Linked DNA regions of Homo sapiens. The protein of the gene in region 1 binds, or shares a complex with, the protein of each later gene. Each region holds a gene or a part of one and is shown on either strand. Other genes may lie near its edges. The genes, in order: POLK and REV1.

Region 1 (4,898 bases):
TCATTGCTTGTCACTGAATTTATTGTAATAACTTCTTCATAAGAATTTATTGTAATACCTTCTTCATAAGAATTTGTTGTTAGATGGATTTATTGTCTGTTGCTACATTTCAGGCACAGAATTAAGCACCTTTTGCACAGCCTCACTTAATTCTGAGGTATGGTGTATTCTATTATTAGCCCCGTTTGATAGAAAAGGATTCTGAGGCTTGAAGACGTTGGTGGAAGAAACAGAACTTGCCCCTAACGAGCATGACTTCTAAGAATGTGTTGTCAAGGGCGTGACTCACTCACCTTGCTCTACAGCAGGGGGTCACTTTGCTCCATCCCCAGGCCAAATCCCGCTGCTGCCTGTTATTGTAAATAAAATTTGTTTTAACACATTAAAAAAAAAAATTCCTGCAAAATCTACAAGCCCCAATGAACTCCCAGCTCTACTCTACCACTTCTTTGTATAATTTTGAGAAATGTCAAGGTTGAATTTATAACTAACACTATAGGAACTTCAATATTAAATCATTTCTAAATGGGCTTCCAACATTTTCTTTTGAATAAAGTAAGACTTGATTTCTCATTTGAAGACCATGAATTTTAATCTTTCCTGGCGGATTCTTTTGAAAAGTGAAATAATACAGAAGCAAGTCAAATTCTGACCCCCCAAATAAACTTCAAATAAGAAAGGTAATCAGGTTTTCATTTATTTATTCTTCTTACAAATTTACAAAAGATGTATCATTTTAATGTAAATTATGTAATATCAATGTTCATTTCAAACTTGTCAGTTTTTCCCTTCAAATTATTGTGCACCAAATTTGAGGCATTAAATTCAAAACAATGTTTCCTAATCAATGAAAAAACAAACATGACAAAATATTATTTATTTTATCAGAACACCGCCCATAACCTCAAACTTTCCTCTTTTAAAAAAGGGAAATGGGCCTAATGTTTGTAATAGAGATATGATAAAAACAATAGCAGGTAAGTTGAATTGAGTATTATGCAGAAATATCAGACAATGTACTAATATGGAAAGTATAATATGTAAATGGAAAAACAGGGCACCAAATTATATGTATATGTAGCATGTTTACAAGTAAAATTCTAAAAATCAAAAGAAAATACCCACACAAAAGAAGGAATAATAGTGAAAACAGCAGCAGATCAATGGAAAGCATACAGCCAAGTACAGAAAAATCTCCCAGTCTGGGTAACAAAGTGAGACCCCCTCTCTACAAAAATTAGCCAGGCATGGTGGTGCATGCCTGTAGTCCCAGCTACTTGGGAGGCTGAGGTGGGAGGATGGCTTCAGCCTGGGAGGCAGAGGTTGCAATGAGCCAAGATTGTGCCACTGTGTGCCAGTCTGCGTGATAGAGCCAGACCCTATCTCAAAAAAAAAATTTTTTTTTAATATAAATAAAAAATAATTTTAAAAAAAGATCTGAATTGTGTTATCCAAGTTTGAAACTGCTTTCAAATTCTAAACCAAGAAATTTACTTTTAAAAAAATCCTCTTATCAATGACAGGAGAAAATGCATCATCATTTTATGCTATATAGCCTTATAATAGTATGTGGTACTTATCTTACTCTAACAGATGAGACAAAAACTCCAAAGCAGTGCATTATGTGAAACTTAGCCATAGCTGGACTTTATTTCCCTGACAGCTTGGGCTAAATAAGAAGCTATGAAGTATACTGTGGGAGGTATTTTCTTTTTCACTCTGTTTCAAATATCAGGTTAGTTCTCAAGCAGAATATTAATTCTAAGCGTGCTAATACATAAAAGCTTGCCCACATGATCTGGCCCTACTCATCTCTCTGATCTTGGGCCCTACAATTCTTCTCCATTCTTCATCCACTGTTTCCTGGTGGAGAGCCATCAGCTTCTATTTCCTCCCTTTGCCTAGAACTTCTCTCCCCCACCTCCACTTCCGAATTTTTAAAATAGTTTTGATCCTTCGTATCATTAAGGTTTCAGGTTAAATGTCACTTCCTCAGAGGAGCCTTCTCGGATCATCTTATTCTAAAAGTGTCCCCTACCTTCATGTTCCATTCCCTTATGCTGTTGTCTCTTTCCTTTGTAACACTTACCACTGAAATGTCTATTTGTTTAGTGTCGGTTTCCACAACTAGAATGTAAACTTCATAAATACAGTGATTTTTAAAACTTTGTTGGGCCAGGCGTGGTGTCTCATGCCTATAATCCCAGCAATTTGAGAGGCCGAAGTGGGAGGATGGCTTGAGGCCAGGAGTTTGAGGCCAACCTGGGCAACTTAGTGAGACTCCAGTCTCCACAAAAAATTTAAAAATTAGCTGGTGGTGGTGGGGCAGACCTGTAGTCTTAGCTACTTGGGAAGCTGAGATGGGAGTATGGCCTGAGCCACGGAGGTCAAGGCTGCAGCAAGCTGTTATCATGTCACTGCATTCCAACCTGGGTGACAGAGCAAGACTCTGTCTCAAAAAAAAAAAAAATTAATTAAGTTTCTTACTGCATCTCCAGTGGCTAAAACAGTACCCGACCTGCAATAAGTATTTGTCAAATAAATATGGAATGCAATTTAGCCATGGGAACAGTAACTTGTCTTTGAGTCCTGAAAGCTTTAAGTTTTTCCCCTAAAGGTCTAGACTAAAAAAATATGTTCAATTCTGAAGTAAACCTTTAAAACCAGGTCCTGTTCAAGGATTCCATATTTTTAAAAACATCTTCCTAGATTTCTCTTTGCCCTCCTCTACCAGACGATTTCTCCCTAGACTCCCACTTTGTATATTCATCTATTATAGCCCTCCCTACATTGAATAGAAACTGTCCCTGGGGTGGCTCTCCATTTTTTGAGGACAAACATGTCTTAATAATCTTTATGTCCTTTATCAGCTAGGATTCAGCTATAATTAATAGGAAAACCCAAGTAACTATGGCTTAAACAATTTTTTAATTTGTTTCTTGTGAAAGTCTCAAAGTGTGCAGGCCAGTGCTGATATGTCTCTGTTTTACAAAGCCCCAAGAATCAGCCCCTGCAGCCCACTACTCTACCATCCCCCTGTGCAACCCTTATGTTCAGGTGTAAACGGCAGCATCTGCTTCCAGGCAGCAGGATGGAACAGAGAAATAGAAAGAAGAGGCAAACAGAATGCTACAGCTGCAAGAAAGGAAGGTTCCCAGAAGCAACCACACACAGTACTTCCTTTTTTTTTTTTTTTTTTTGAGACAAGGTCTCGCTTTGTCACCCAGGTTGGAGTGCAGTGGTGCAATCTCAGCTCACTGCAACCTCCGTCTCCCGGGTTCAAGCGATTCTCTTGCCTCAGCCTCCTGAGTAGCTGGGATCACAAGTGTGTGCCACCACGCCCAGCTACTTTTTTGTATTTTGAGTAGAGACGGGGTTTCACCATCTTGGCCAGGCTGGTCTCGAACTCCTGACCTCAGGTGATCCACCCGCCTTGGCCTCCCAAAGTGCTGAGATTACAGGCGTGAGACACCGCACCCGGCCAGTACTTCCTTTTATATCCCATTAGTCAAAACTCAGTCACATGGCTACCCCTAGCTGGGAGGGTGTGAGCTTCAAGGATGGGAGATACATTGTAGTCATCAATTCTGTAACACCTATTTTTCACATTATCACATCTTTTTAATTGAGATACTAAGTTGTCTGCCTGAATTGAAGTTGAGTTCTTCCATAGAGGATTTGCATATGCTTCTGCCAGTCACTAGGGGCAATACTAACCTCACTTTAATTACATTTTCTGCTTGAGCTCTTTAGGATGATACCATTTGTGTGAATTCAGATTACAAGCCTACATGTGTACTGGTTTATGGTTCAAATTCTCACTGGCAGTCCCTCCTTCCAACCAGTGCCAAGGCTGAGCATGCAAATTGCTTTGCTGTGGGGAAAAGCAAGAGAGATCAGATTGTTACTGTGTCTGTGTAGAAAGAAGTAGACATAGGAGACTCCATTTTGTTATGTACTAAGAAAAATTCTTCTGCCTTGAGATTCTGTGACCTTACCCCCAACCCCGTGCTCTCTGAAACATGTGCTGTGTCAACTCAGAGTTGAATGGATTAAGGGCGGTGCAGGATGTGCTTTGTTAAACAGATGCTTGAAGGCAGCATGCTCCTTAAGAGTCATCACCACTCCCTAATCTCAAGTACCCAGGGACACAAAAACTGCGGAAGGCCGCAGGGACCTCTGCCTAGGAAAGCCAGGTATTGTCCAAGGTTTCTCCCCATGTGATAGTCTGAAATATGGCCTCGTGGGAAGGGAAAGACCTGACCGTCCCCCAGCCCGACACCCGTAAAGGGTCTGTGCTGAGGAGGATTAGTAAAAGAGGAAGGAATGCCTCTTGCAGTTGAGACAAGAGGAAGGCATCTGTCTCCTGCCTGTCCCTGGGCAATGGAATGTCTCGGTATAAAACCCGATTGTATGCTCCATCTACTGAGATAGGGAAAAACCGCCTTAGGGCTGGAGGTGGGACCTGCGGGCAGCAATACTGCTTTGTAAAGCACTGAGATGTTTATGTGTATGCATATCTAAAAGCACAGCACTTAATCCTTTACATTGTCTATGATGCCAAGACCTTTGTTCACGTGTTTGTCTGCTGACCCTCTCCCCACAATTGTCTTGTGACCCTGACACATCCCCCTCTTTGAGAAACACCCACAGATGATCAATAAATACTAAGGGAACTCAGAGGCTGGCGGGATCCTCCATATGCTGAACGCTGGTTCCCCGGTTCCCCTTATTTCTTTCTCTATACTTTGTCTCTGTGTCTTTTTCTTTTCCAAATCTCTCGTCCCACCTTACGAGAAACACCCACAGGTGTGTAGGGGCAACCCACCCCTACACTTTGCTCCCTCTTTCTTCATGGAAGATTTCTCCTTTATCCTTGCTCTGAAGGTATAAACCTT
Region 2 (7,297 bases), on another chromosome or scaffold:
CTATAATCTGTAAAAGGAACTAAAATTTCAAACCAGATACTAATTTATAATGACTGGCCCAGAAAAACAGTATGCTACTGTGTGTGCATTTGTTTTTGATGACAAGAAAAGTATTAAAAAACAAAATACAATGAACCAATGTACTTAAGATGTGAAATAATCTCACTGAAAGTTTACCACTGTTAATTACAACAGCTCTATGTCAAAATTAAAAAATCATTATGATGCAAGCTTCTAGAAATTAACAATTACTCTTATCAAACCAATTTCATTCTTACAGGAGTTTAAGCACTGGATAGATGTTATATTAACACAGTTCAAAACTTCACCAACTGATAAGGTCTACGTGAGGAATGAATGCTCAGAATCCCAACCATCTTACTGTTTAAATTCTCTGAAAATTTTCAGTCAGCCACAATTATATCTAATTGTTTTAAAAATATTTTAATAAATTAGCTTTCTATGTTATGCTTACTGTAACTTACATGATTTGACATACTTAGAGACTTTTATGAGAACTTCATATTGACCAGAAATACCAATAATAGCATAAGAGCAAAATGATCAAGCATGACTGTTTCTTAAGAAGACAATTTTAATAAGTATCTACCTGTGTCAGTTACAACAAGTGCAGACCTGCCTGTTTTCATTTTTTTTAACTTTTCCCTTCCTGGAAAGATACCATTACTTTGTCTTTGTAGGGTATTGACAAACTCAGTCAATTCACACTTCCACATTGATATGTGATGCAGTCTTGAATGAGAATAGAAGTTTGAAATAAAATTGCAGTCTGAAGGTTTGGATGGCACTGAAGGTGCTGCCTTGCTAAACGTAGATACTGAAGAAGTGCTTTTTGTGCTTGAAGGCCCCTGAACAGTGGAGTGGTGAGCACCATTGATTTTAGTGTTACTGTGCAAAGGTGATAATGAGAAAGAATTAGTTCTGTGTGGATTCCGCAAAGCATCTGTGTTTCTGGTGCTTTGCTGCAACTGCTGCAGAGTGCAGTCTCTGAAATCAGTGCTGCTCTTCTCAGCCTTATCCTCCTCCTGGGAAAAGGCTGGAGAAAGCCTGCTGGCAACACTGTTGACCATGGGCACCAAGCAATCCTGTGTCTTTAAGGCACCATTAGAGCTAGGAGTGTGTCCATTAAAAATGGCAGTGCTCCCTCTGGGATGCGGAATTCCATTCTGTTTCCTTCCCGGAGAGGTCTGCTCCAGATCCACAAAACTAAAATCATTATTTTCATCTTCTTCATTCCAACTGTTCATGCCATTGACTTTGACTTCATTTTCCGTTTCAATCTTCTTAACGATGTGATTTCTAAAGCAGGAAAAAATTTTTGAGTTAATAATATCTGACTTTTAGGTTAAAACAATTTTTTCATTTCATCATTTTCTTAGTGGTACACAGTTTGGTATTTCCCCCTTTAAAAACAGAAAATTCTTATATTGAATATTGACAATGAAAAAAAAAAACCCTGAAACTTAAACCACAAACTTTATATTCTGATTTGACAAAAGATCATTCTTTGCAAAAGTAGCAAGATAACTAGAAAAATTCTAGAATATTAACAGCCCTTTAGGTGTTTTTTGTTTGTTTTTTATTTTCACTTCAGATAGTCCCAAAGAAGAAATAAAATAGAACATTTCTCATGGCTGAAGAAAAACCCAAAAAACTTTTCAGTTATTTTTCCCATAAAAAATTAATTGGAATCTATAAGCTGTAAATACCCAGTTCTGAAGCACAGTGCTTGGCATTTACTACATGGTCAATAAATATCTGCTGAATTAATATACTACAAATAACTTTCATAAAAATGGATTTAAAAACCTTACTTGAATTCTTATTCCTAGTTTTAGTTTTTATGAAAGGTACTATTCAACACATTAAATCTAATACGAAACCAGATGGTTTCAGTAGGAAAAAAACTGACTATATTGATTAACCTATTAATGAGCTAACTGTTGCACAAATAGACAAAAAGTAAAGCCATGTCAATGTGTGGGGGTAATTCAGTAAAATTTACACCTAGAAAAATAAGGACGCTTGCCTTACTGAGAAGGGAAATTGCACTTCATTTCTAAGAAATGCATATTTAGATGCCAGGGTGGTACAAGGCAATCTGGACCAAGTTTCCTGATGACAGCTTTATAAATGCAGAACCCATGACAAATGTTATGCTAAAGTCACATCCTGGCTCCTCTAGACGTTTGTTTAGAAATGCATTCACGAGAATCATCTAAGTAACAAAAACAAAAACCTGAATTACAAAGCAGTAATTCATTCTACTTAGGAATGTCCAAATGTCCATAGCATTAATTCAATTACAGCGCAGGCTCCAGATGAAGGGCTGCCCTACAGAGTAGTAAGCCACAGGTGAAATTACCACAGTATTATCAGGTTCCACCTAAAGCCCCTCACCCTAATACCAACTTGGTTTATTAGTAATGAGAGCCTGACTACACAGAAAAGTCCCACAAGCTGGATGATCACCCATTTCTGGGTTAGCTCAGGCTCTGGCTAAACATCATATGGAATGTGACAGGCAACTGTGAGTAGATGCCATGCTCACAGATGATCATGCCAGTGATGGGGAAAAAGACAAAGTAGATATGATTAAAAGAAGAAAAAAAGAAAACCTAATTTGTCACATGCAGAGAAAGTTCAGCCTCTTGAGATAAACAGAATGCAAGGGAGCAAGAAGTCACAGATGAGCATTTCAAAGAAATGTACAAAATGTACTGAATATACCCCCCAAAAAAACCCCAGAAAACAACAAAAGTGATGTACGTCAGAAAGTCTTACATCTAGTTTTGTGTCAAAAACATTCAGACCCTTTACATGCATTATAGCAACACATGCAACAGAAAGCCATATATTGGCAGGAAAATACATTGTTAACATACATTCTTGCTGTACTATAGTTTCTCAGCCTAGACAAATGGACATTTGCAAAGTAGCTGTACTGGAAATATCACGGGTAGAGATACATTTTTTAGGCAATGGCATAAATGTATTAAGAAGTAAAATCTAAAAGGTAATTTCTTCCTAAAGTGTCACAAAGAAGATTTTGAAAAAACATATCTATTTTCTACTTTTATTAATGTGGGTAAGAAAAGAAAGCTAAAGCTACGTATTCTGTGAAAAGGTTTTCTGGTATTATTTGCTATATACCTTGATAGCACATTAAAAAAAATTAAAAGCTACAGGTAACATGAAAAATATTTGAATATGCTTGTGAGTACAAGTTAAATTAACAAATGACAACAAAAATTACAGAAGGCAGTGATACTGGATCCTCTCAGATTAATTAGACTCCTGGTGTTTTCGAAAAAAAATATATCCAACTCCCAAAGCAAGCAATTTAATAAATAAAGAGAAGGCTAACCATAATGAACCACCTGATATACAAGGTAAGGCAACCCACCAATTAATTGTGAAACAATTTATCCAGGGTTGCAATTAAAAGCTTAAATTAAAAAAAAAAAGCAGCCACATGGAATAGTCTAGATTCACTTTCAATTCTATAACCAAGGGTCACCAACTAAACTTCCATTTATATATTTACATATTTAGAATGTTATGAATTTTGAATTTTTCAAAAATAACCCAGAAATATTAACATTTTCATTGTCTTTCTATGCATGGAACACAACAAAAATATAGCTGGTGCAGTTAGTTCCATTTTTGAGAAAGCAATACAGCAAATTACTTGTGAGGAAATAATTACTTTCATAAAAATCCATGAAAAAACTTATTAACAATTAAGATCCACTAGTTTAAGGTGAGAAACCAGTATGACTGTAAAAACTTACTTACATTTATGAAATTATCATTATAAAAATAATTCATTTTTAGATAAGACACTCATACACACATATTTCAACATGTTTATTATAAGTGAATGGCCAGGGTTTGTATCTGCTTCTGTCTGACTGTAACAGAGCAGGGGCCATGCTCACTGCTAAAAACCAGCTTTGTGGCCAGGCGTGGTGGCTCATGCCTGTAACCCCAGCACTTTGGGAGGCCAAGGAAGGTAGATCACAAGGCCAGGAGTTCGAGACCAGCCTGGCCAAGATGGTGAAACCCCGTCTCTACTAAAAATACAAAAATTAGCCAGGCGTGGTGGCACACGCCTGTAAGCCTAGCTACTCGGGAGGCTGAGGCAGGAGAATCACTTGAACCTGGGAGGCAGAGGTTGCAATGAGCCGAGATCATACCATTGCACTCCAGCCTCGGCAACAAGAGCAAAACTCCATCTCAAAAAAAAAAAAAAAAAAAAAAAACCAACCAGCTTTGCAGTAATCCCCAACTAGACAAACTTACACCCTGTTGTTGAGCTGTTTGGCTATATTGCTTGGACCTGGCAGAGGATCCTCAGGTCTGCATACAGGATTAAAGCTGAGACCTTTCTGCACACTGGACTGCTTGGTGTACAGCTGATATGGAATGTAGGAGAGGAGTCGTCCAGCTTTGATGCTGAAACAAAAAGCAACACCAATTTAGAGTTCCATACTTGGTGACAATGAGCTTCATGAAAAATATTCAATGTCCTTAAAGATACAGTATTTCACCAACAACAGGTCATCTGTTTTCCTAGTTTATTCCTTCTTGCTCGGTTTTAGTGGTCCTAATACAATATGATCTTAGAGTGGGGAAAAACTGCAAGCACAGAGCTGAACTAGTCAATATTTTAAACCTCATGACTTTAGTATTTACCACCCTGTCAACAGTTAACAGAGAATCATCAAGACTTCATCAAAATCTCATCTATTAAGGTTTTCCAAGATAAATAAACTGAATAAGGATGCTCAATTTCCAAATTCATGTCAGAAACTGTAAAATAAAAATATAGGACAAAATAAAGAATCTCAACTTCAAGAGTAATAATTTATACTATTTTTATGTATACAAGAATGGTTAAGAGCCAAGGCCATTTGAAGATATGAACTCTACAAGGGCCAAAACTACCATGTACATCCTCACAGCATATCACACAACACCACTCAAATCCAGGGGAACACCAGTGTTCTAACGCTAGGTGGTACTAGCACTGTAACTGAAGTTCCCAAATGTCTGCTTCCTTTTGTACTTCAGAACTAAAACTAATTTGATTGCAGTATCTAAAACTGACATTTTCTTGCTAATAAACTGAGTTATATATGGCTACTCTACCTTTAAAATTATCATTTCACTTCAAATTTAAAAATAACCAATCAATATACTTATGCTATCATCCAAATTTCAAAACAAGCTACTTTAATATTAGAAAATATTTCAAAACAACCTCTGGATTTTAAACCTAAAATATATACCAAGGAATCATCCCTCAGTTATTTAGAAAAAGACTGATAAATAACATGATAAAAATATGTTTCTTATTGTCTCATAAATCCAAGACTTGACATTTTCATTTTCTTAAATGGTGTCACACAAAACTTTTTAAAAAATAATCATTTAAGAAATGACTGAATTGGCTTACAGAATACTAATTAAAAATAACTGAGTCAACAACTTGGAATACAGGAAAACATACTAACAGATTCTAAAAACGGAACTATATATGATACAGAGTATGTCCTTTATATAATTATGTCAATATATATTTAACAATTCTACCTAAAGTACCTTAACCTATATCAAATGCTATAACTATTAAATTATGATGGTAAAGAACATACTATACTAGTCGCAAGACATGTAACCAAATGGATTTATGACCAGGCTAAATGTTTTACCAAAATTCAGGTTACATTCAAAATACATTCAAAATTTCAGGTTACATTCAAATATTAGAATCGAAACCCTAAAATTCGACTATTTTTTACTTTATTCTTCCTCAAACCAACTTTTCTTCCTTTTTTTTTTTTGAGACGGAGTCTCGCTCTGTCGCCCAGGCTGGAGTGCAGTGGCGCGATCTCGGCTTCACGCCATTCTCCTGCCTCAGCTTCCCGAGTAGCTGGGACTACAGGCGCCTGCCACCACGCCCGGCTAATTTTTTGTATTTTTTTAGTAGAGACGGGGTTTCACCGTGTTAGCCAGGATGGTCTCGATCTCCTGACCTCGTGATCCACCCGCCTCTGCCTCCCAAAGTGCTGGGATTACAGGTGTGAGCCACCGCGCCCAGCCCTTTTCTTCCTTTAATAGTTGGTCTCAATTGCCTAACTATAAATCTTTGTTCTGTGGTATTATGTATATCAAACTCACTTGCTTCCCCCACCAAAAGAAGTACAGCTACTTAATACCTGAAATAAAATCCTAACCTTAGCTTTCCATCCTTTATCATAGATAGCTATAACTAAGAGACAAGTAGAGAGTGAAACTACACCCACTGTGCCAGCTGCACATCTCAGGTAAAACCAAAAGTGCAAGGAACAAAACGCCCTATGATCATTCTCGCTTTTCCTGCCCTACTGACAGCATGCTGGAGTGATGCAGACTCTACAGGTACTCTCTATGGTCAGCACTGATCATATACAAGGGTGTCAGGCCTTATCCAGCTCCTAACAAGAGCCATGTGGCCACCCACAGAATTCTTAGGCTTACATAAGTCAGTCCATGGAGACTGCTACAAAATTAGACAGCCAATTTAAATACTGCAAGTCTCAAATCAGATATCCTCAGAGATACTCAATAAAAAGAATTAAAGCCCAATGCACTACAGTAATGTTAGTGAAGTAATGTCAGTTATAATTTGAAGCCTAAACCACTATCTATCAGTTGTATACTCCTAACTACCCCTGCTTGCCCATTTATCTATCTATAGATATATAGACAGAAACATTATCTGAAAGCATATTTGTATAAGACCTTTTTAAAAATCTCTCTGGGATTAATTTCTCACATTTACTATTTCCCCTCTTGTTCTAAGCGCAAAGGAACTGTACTGACATTTTCTACTATTCTTTCAAAACCAAAAGGAGAGGATAATAAAAAAATCCATCTTTATCCAAAAGATAATACTACACGGTTTCCTTATACACTGAGTTTTTTCATGTACATTGAAACTATATTCTGATATATACATGAAAGAGTTTACATTCTATACAACGAATCAAAACATAGTCATAGCAAGTGAAATATTCATCTATTTTGGGAAGTCTTACTCTTGCTTTGTCCTACAGCCTCTGCGTTTAGGAACAAAAAAAAAAAACACAAGGAATGGCAAAAAAAACTCATGAGAGATAAAATTGCAATCAACTTTTATTTAAATGAGTTGCATAAGCACTCTAATATTTAAACACTGAATGTAATTAGAAACCAAAGTTTTGACTCATATGTAAGCACATGACAAACG

What was found.
Region 2: the proteins of POLK (region 1) and REV1 are in contact, whole or in part, in an NMR structure (PDB 2LSI), measured with the Homo sapiens proteins. Residues at the interface, in NP_001374042.1 of Homo sapiens: Lys564, Lys565, Ser566, Phe567, Phe568, Asp569, Lys571, Arg572, Arg575; in NP_057400.1 of Homo sapiens: Asn1158, Leu1159, Ala1160, Gly1161, Ala1162, Asp1167, Leu1171, Leu1172, Glu1174, Trp1175, Thr1178, Ile1179, Met1183, Glu1185, Asp1186, Gln1189, Val1190.

Annotation. Positions count from the first base shown.
Region 1 is NC_000005.10:75,605,770-75,610,667, reverse strand, and holds the end of POLK (DNA polymerase kappa), read right to left. Parts: 3' UTR 677-4,898; downstream 1-676. UniProt on the Homo sapiens protein: DNA polymerase specifically involved in DNA repair. Plays an important role in translesion synthesis, where the normal high-fidelity DNA polymerases cannot proceed and DNA synthesis stalls.
Region 2 is NC_000002.12:99,437,991-99,445,287, forward strand, and holds part of REV1 (DNA repair protein REV1), read right to left. Parts: intron 4,480-7,297; coding exon 4,327-4,479; intron 1,321-4,326; coding exon 611-1,320; intron 1-610. UniProt on the Homo sapiens protein: Deoxycytidyl transferase involved in DNA repair. Transfers a dCMP residue from dCTP to the 3'-end of a DNA primer in a template-dependent reaction.